Linked DNA regions of Homo sapiens. The protein of the gene in region 1 purifies or fractionates together with the protein of each later gene. This does not show direct contact. Each region holds a gene or a part of one and is shown in the gene's direction. Other genes may lie near its edges. The genes, in order: THBS4 and ITGA5.

Region 1 (3,758 bases):
CCAGAGCCTTCATTTCCCTGAGCAATTCTGACCTAGGATAGTCCCCAAGGACATGCCAGGACTTTTGTGACCGCAGGATGGGGAACCTAGAAAAGAGGTGGGAGAGAAGATATTCAGGGTCAGACCACCCGGACAGGACAGTAGGACCAAGATGGGGATAGAAGGAGCAGAGCTGAGGGGACGACCCAGCGTTGTGGGGTTGGTGCATTTGGATGGCTGTGCCCTTCTGCCATGCTCTGCAGAGAAGCCTGAGGGTGGACATGCCAATCGGTATGAGGTAAGAGGTGTGGCAGGGTCTCTTCTCCACACCCTCCCCTGTGGCACCTCTGGGCCCTGTGTAATCACTTACTAGTGCACATTTCACCCTGACTGCAGCACTATGTCCCTTACAGTCTGTCTTCCCTGCTGGATCACAAACTGCATGAGAGCAGCGCTTGTATCTTTTTTTTTTTTTTTTTTTTTTTTTGGAGACGGAATCCCACTCTGTTGCCAGGCAGGAGTACTGTGGCGTGATCTCAGCTCACTGCAACCTCCGCCTTCCTGGTTCAAGTGATTCTTCTGCCTCAGCCTCCCGAGTAGCTGGGATTACAGGCACGCGCCATCACGCCAGGCTAATTTTTGTATTTTTAGTAGAGATGGGGTTTCACCATGCTGGCCAGGCTGGTCTTGATCTCCTGACCTCGTGATCCACCCGCCTCGGCCTCCCAAAGTGCTGGGATTACAGGCATGGGCCACTGTGCCTAGCCATAGCTTATTATTTTATCTTGATCTCCCCAGTGCCTAGCACAAAGCCTGACATCTACTACACGTGGCATGAACTGATCATCATGTAGGCCAAAGTAGTCTGACTTCTTTCTTTATAGGACTTTTTTGTTGTTGTTTTTTAAGTATTCTCGGGAGTTAGGAGGCTTAGGGCTGTGTCTTTGAAATGTAGATAGTGTTCTTCTTCATTTGAACTTGCAGATCAACACCCATCCTAGCCTATGTAGGATATTTAGGAAGGAGTACTGAGTGCATTCTCCTCATCAGGGCAGGAAAGCAGCCTTGTGGAAAAAAGAAAATCATGAGGGCAAATTCATGTTTTGTTTCTCTTTGTGACATTATGTCAAATGTACTCTTTTTGTCTCACAGTGAGATGATCATGTTCTCAGCCCTATTAAGCCCAATGCCCCTTTTTTATTATAAATATTTTGAAATGCCCCCTTTTCCGTCCCAAAATGGAATCATAGAAATTACAACCTACCTACACGTATAATCTAGAAAATCAATGTGAGCCCTAACAATATCATAGAGAAATAAGAATAATTTATAACAAAATAATTTAAATATTTGAGCACAGCCACACCAGAAGACAAAATGAAACAGACACTTGCACCCATGCCTAGAATCACTACGAAGGTGACATTCTAACAGACTGTTGTGTCAGTGACTTAAATGTTTGTTACACTGGTTGATGACAGCAATGTAAATTTCTCAAATGGTACACATTTTAGAATGTTAATTTTCAAACAAATTTTCTCAATTTACCCTGGAAAATATAGTTTATATTAAAATTTGTGCAAAATATACTTGCTGTTTACAAGTGAAAGTGAGTCAGGTTCTAGGCCCTGATAGTTGCTCTTTACCTACCCTGGTGTCTGAGGAACACTCCAGAAGTGTATGGAATGCAGGACAGGTTTTGATTGTTCTCGCCAGGGCATTGCTCGCCATCCAGCATCCCTGGCTGCCATCACTCAGTGCCACTGTGACAACCCAAAGTGTCCCCACAGATTCCTCCAACTCTACTTAGGGAGTGCTGTCTCCTGTGGAGAATCATTGCTCTGAGATTCCACCAAAAGATATAAATCAGACCAAAGGAAAAGCCAAAGTTTTTAAGCATGGTATCTAGACAAGGCAACTCACATGACAATAAGACACAAAACTTTCTCACTCAAGATAGCAGGTTTGGTTTGGTTTGATTTTTAACTCAAGTTTGATAGTGTGACCAACATCATGTTAGGCCTTGTGAGAGACAGAAGTTGGGAAGAAACACCCCCCACCCCCCTCCACACACACACGGACACACACGGTCCCTGCCCTCAAGGACTTCCAGTCTAGTAAGTAAGTGGCAACAGCTACAGTACAATCCAGGTCAGCGAAAAATGGAGCCTAAAACAGAGCAAAGAAAGACGCAGGTACGTATAAGAAGTGGGGCCCCTGGGCCTCACAGTGGGCACTTTACCCCGGGTTGGATTTCATGGAGGCCCCTCCGGCCGTGTTGTCCGCAGGGTACGATTTTATGAAGGCTCTGAGTTGGTGGCTGACTCTGGCGTCACCATAGACACCACAATGCGTGGAGGCCGACTTGGCGTTTTCTGCTTCTCTCAAGAAAACATCATCTGGTCCAACCTCAAGTATCGCTGCAATGGTAATGTGCATTCTCGTTACTGTTCAACATTGTTACTAGAATTAGTCAAACACTGCCACCTTATTTTTATACCGCACTTCCCCCCCAAAAGCCCAACGCTCATACCACATAGTCATTAAAACCTGATAGTCCCTGTGTACCAGAAGTAAAAAGCAGATCACATTTATCCTATTTTATCCATGTGGAAATTAAGACCCATAGAATTTAACTGCATGGTTTAGGGTTTGGGGTTCAGTGAGAAATCCAGTCAGATTTAATTTACAGGAAGCCTTTATTTTCATGTGGTTAAAACATAATCACAGATGCAAAATCCATTCTGCCTGCTGATTTTCTGCACGGCCGGGAAGGAGCACTCCTGGGCTTTAAGCCAACGGTTTGCAAAGCAGCCTGCAGGAGAAAATGGCGGCGAGGGCCTGCGGGGCGTCCTGGGCGGGCTAACAGCGCCCCCTACAGGACGCCTGAGCCGCGGGCGGGGGTCCGGGGTCCGGGGTGGAAGGAGCCTCGCTAACCTCCCTGTGCCCATTCCTATTGCAGACACCATCCCTGAGGACTTCCAAGAGTTTCAAACCCAGAATTTCGACCGCTTCGATAATTAAACCAAGGAAGCAATCTGTAACTGCTTTTCGGAACACTAAAACCATATATATTTTAACTTCAATTTTCTTTAGCTTTTACCAACCCAAATATATCAAAACGTTTTATGTGAATGTGGCAATAAAGGAGAAGAGATCATTTTTAAAAACCGTGTTGCTCAGACATTGCTCTCACGTGGCTCAGGCTTTGAGGTGCCCGTTCTCGGAGGGATCCCTGTTAACTTGCAGGGTGGTAGTTTCTTCTCAGACCCGGTGGCCGATAAGATGAGCCTATGCGTGAATCACAAGGCCCAGGCCAGAGGTCTCAGCTGGGGTCCCCCCAGTTTGCTCCATACAAAACGCCTAACCGTTCCATGCTCACCTTGGCAGCCTCCTTATTTCGGGTAAGGGGTCTCAGAAACACGTGTTTGGGGTGGCACCTTCCCTAGGGAGGCGTTTTTCTGACCTAGTCCTGGGACAGATTTGCCCAATTCTTTCTGATGCTGTCATCCCATCCCACACCTTCCACAGACTTCTATTCTGGCCCCTTCAACGTAATTCTTAAGCTTATTTATATATTTGGCTCCCCCTAGTGGACTGTAAGCATATTGACAATAAAGGATCATGTCATTACAATCAATATCCCCACAGTACCTGGAATGTAGTAAATAGCCAGTAAATGTTTACTGAATTAATAAACGAAGAATGAATGAATGAATGCCTCTTAAAGGACAGTAGAGTGTACATGATCATAAAAGTCCTCCTCAACTCAAAAAGTC
Region 2 (3,818 bases), on another chromosome or scaffold:
AGACACAGAGCAGAGCAGAGGCCAAGGCTGGCAGGAGCACTGGTCCAGAGGCTGGGTCGAGTTGCCCAGGCTGCCAGATACAAGTCCTGGCAGGAGACCCTTAGGGGAAACCAAGAGAGCCAAGAGCGGTGTGGAGGTCTTGGAGGCAAGAGACCTAGGGATGAATGAGGCAGAGCTGACGGCAGGAGGACTGCCCAGGCCCTTAGCTATGACCACCCCATTACACAGGGCAAACTTCCCCTCATATCAGGGGGAACAGAAGCACTGTGTCCAGAACTGGGACCCCGGTAGAGCAGACTCTGAATTCAGTCAGCTGGGGGTGGTCTATGGGAAAGGGGTTCAAGGGCTGAAACACAGACCCAGCCAGGAAGGGGAGGCCCACACCAGGGCCGGGGTGAGGGCAGGCCCAGGCCCAGTGGAACAATCTGTTTTCACTGTCCTCCAGCTCCTCTCTCCACTCCTGCTGCCTGATTTCCAAGACTCACATTTTCCTCCTACACGCCCCAAGGCTGGGTGGCTGGGCAGCCGGATGCCTGGGTCTTGGCCCAGGGAGGGGATTTGGCTTGGGAGGAGAGTATATAGGCTAGATGAGAGACCCTGAGGCTCCACAGGACCTTGGCGCTCCAGAAGCTATACATCTAATCTCAGCAGGTACGTAGAGGAGAGGGAGAAGCCAGGGGTACAGGCTCTGGCCCCTCTTCCCCTTCTAGAAATTGACTGTGGTTCCTCCTCTCTTTATGAACAGGATAAGGTAGGAGAGGACAGAGAATGGCGGGAGGAGGGGAGGGTTGTGTTAGTGACAGCGGCACATGGGGACCGCCTGACTCCAGCCTGTGCCTCTGGCATCTGTGGCATCTTCTGAGATATAAATACAACGCAGGGGGCATCTACTCCACCCCCAGCCAGCCCCAGCCTAGAGGCCTGGGTCCTTCCTGCCTCCAGACACCAATGAAAAGCTAGGAGCCATCCTCAACTGCCTCGCTTTTCCCCCCCACAGGGTCAGTGTGCTGGTGGGAGCACCCAAGGCTAATACCAGCCAGCCAGGAGTGCTGCAGGGTGGTGCTGTCTACCTCTGTCCTTGGGGTGCCAGCCCCACACAGTGCACCCCCATTGAATTTGACAGCAAAGGTAGGCCAGTGAAATTCAGGGAGGGACTGGGGGGTGGGACTGCAGCCTGGGGGCAAGGCCTGGGTGGGGCCTGGGGCGAGGGGTGGAGCCTGCTGGAACCCCGGCCACGTGACCTCTCAGCACCAGCTCTGGTGCTCCAACTGCTTACAGTGGATCCCCATGGCACTCACTCCACTCTCCCATCCAGCCCAGCCCAAGGAGGACGGGCATGATTCAGAAACATGTGGCTCTCATTTCCCCTGAATCACCCACAATTCTGGGAGGCCAGGGCCGTAACACAGACAAAGACAGGGAATGTTGCACAAACTATTCAGTTCCTTTAACTAAGTACTGACTAAGTGACAGTGCATGACAGGCACTGTGCTGGTGCTGCAGGGACTGAAAGATGACTAAGCCACTGCCCTCAAGGAGCTCAAGGTCTGAGTAGACACAGATGGATGGGAGGAAGATGGAGACTAACAGCTATCAGTTGCTCTGTGCCAGGCCCAGTTGTGAACACTTTACATATATTAGTTCACTTAATCTTTTCAACAACTGTATAAGGTATTATTATCCCCATTTTCTAAGTGAGGAGACAGAGGGTAAGTAGCTTATCCAAGGTTATACAGCTAGCAAACATTGGAGAGAGGATATGAACTAGGGCCATCTGTCTCCAGAAATAAAAACTGGACAGGCTGGGCACGGTGGCATGTGCCTGTAATCCCAGCACTTTGGGAGGCCGAGGCAGGAGGATCACTTGGTCCCAGGAGTTCAAGACCATCCTGGCCAACATAGTGAGACCCTGTCTCTACCAAAAACATTAGACAGAGCTGGGTGTGGTGGCTCATGCTTGTAATCCCAGCACTTTGGGAGGCCAAGGCAGGTGGATCACCTGAGGCCAGGAGTTTGAGACCAGACTGGCCATCATGGCAAAACCCCGTCTCTACTGAAAATACAAAAATTAGCCGGGCATGGTGGCACTTGCCTGTAATCCCAGCTACTTGGGAAGCTGAGGCACAAGAATTGCTTGAACTCAGGAGGCAGAGATTGCAGTGAGCTGAAATCATGTCACTGCACTCCAGCGTGGGCTACAGAGAAAGACTCTGTCTCAAGAAAAAAAAAAAAAAAATTAGCCAGGCATAGTGGTGAGCACTTGTAGTCCCAGCTACTCGGGAGGTTGAGGTGGGAGAATCACTTGAGTGATTCTCCGTCACTGCAGCCAAGGCTGCAATGAGTGCTACTTGCCCCACTGCCCTGTAGCCTGAGTGACAGAGCAAGACCCTGTTTAAAAAAAAAAAAAAATTAAAATAAACCTGGTCAACATGGCAAAACCCCATCTGTACAAAAAACACAAAAATTAGTTGGGTATAGTTTCCACCCACTTGGGGGGCTGATGTGGGAGGATCACTTGCACCCAGGAGGTCAAGGTTGCAGTGAGCCATAATCACGCCACTGCACTCCAGCCTGGGCAACAGAGTGAGACCCTATCTCAAAAAAAAAAAAAAAAGGAGGTGGAACAAGATGGTGTTAGAGACACAGTCCAAGTATAGACAAAGAAGTGCAGCCAAAGGGTTACTCTCTTGGGAAATAGCCACTGTTCCCCACCATCCTCCTGCCCCTGCTCCACAGCAGGCATCCTTGTCTCAGTTGGGTGAGAAAGCAGGAACCTTGGGGAGGCAACTCTAGAAAGCCCAGGTTCTACGCGGGCGCAGTGGCTCACGCTTGTAATCCCAGCACTTTGGGAGGCTGAGGCGGGCAGGTCATGAGGTCAGGAGTTCGAGATCAGCCTGACCAACATGATGAAACCCCGTCTCTACTAAAAATACAAAAATTAGCCAGGTGTGGTGACGCGCACCTGTAATCCCAGCTACTGAGGAGGCTGAGGCAGGAGAATCCCTTGAACCAGGGAGGCGGAGGTTGCACTGAGCCGAGATCATGCTACTGCACTCCAGCCTGGGTGACAGAGTGAGACTCCATCTCAAAAAAAAAAGAAAGCCCAGGTTCTGTGTGCGTGTGCGTGCGTGTGTATGTATGTGTGTGTGTGTATGTGTATGTGTGTAGTGGAGAGATAAGTCAGGCTACACAAACAGACTACACAAAGCAGAATTAAGCTCCTTACCAATTCCACACTCCCAGCGAGTCATGGAGTCTCAGGGCTTGGAAGCGTTTGTTGGGTATCCCCAGGCTGAGGGTAGGGGCTGCCCTAGAGCTCAAATGTCCATGGCTCAGTAAGACTCCCCCTTCTCACTTCCACAAGGCTCTCGGCTCCTGGAGTCCTCACTGTCCAGCTCAGAGGGAGAGGAGCCTGTGGAGTACAAGTCCTTGCAGTGGTTCGGGGCAACAGTTCGAGCCCATGGCTCCTCCATCTTGGTGAGGGGCCAGCAAGCTCAGTGGTGTGGTGGCCAGGGGATGGGCAGTGGTTGGGTAAGGCCGGGCCTGGAGGGAGGGAGGAAGGGCCTTATTGGACTGAATCTGAAGGCCCCTCCTCCTGGGCCCTCCCAGGCATGCGCTCCACTGTACAGCTGGCGCACAGAGAAGGAGCCACTGAGCGACCCCGTGGGCACCTGCTACCTCTCCACAGATAACTTCACCCGAATTCTGGAGTATGCACCCTGCCGCTCAGGTAGGGGCAAGAGGGGGCCTGTGCCCCATGTCTGCCTTCTCATATACTTGAAGTGTCTCACATACTTAGGGTTGACTCGCACCTACCA

What was found.
Region 2: the proteins of THBS4 (region 1) and ITGA5 purify together in Homo sapiens (co-immunoprecipitation; one study listed by IntAct). This does not show direct contact.

What each region holds. Positions count from the first base shown.
Region 1 is NC_000005.10:80,080,139-80,083,896, forward strand, and holds the end of THBS4 (thrombospondin-4 isoform a precursor), read left to right. Parts: exon of another isoform or gene 1-86; intron 87-2,221; exon of another isoform or gene 2,222-2,267; coding exon 2,268-2,407; intron 2,408-2,941; coding exon 2,942-3,003; 3' UTR 3,004-3,149; downstream 3,150-3,758.
Region 2 is NC_000012.12:54,409,144-54,412,961, reverse strand, and holds part of ITGA5 (integrin alpha-5 precursor), read left to right. Parts: intron 1-997; coding exon 998-1,128; intron 1,129-3,226; exon of another isoform or gene 3,227-3,364; coding exon 3,365-3,477; intron 3,478-3,609; coding exon 3,610-3,730; intron 3,731-3,818.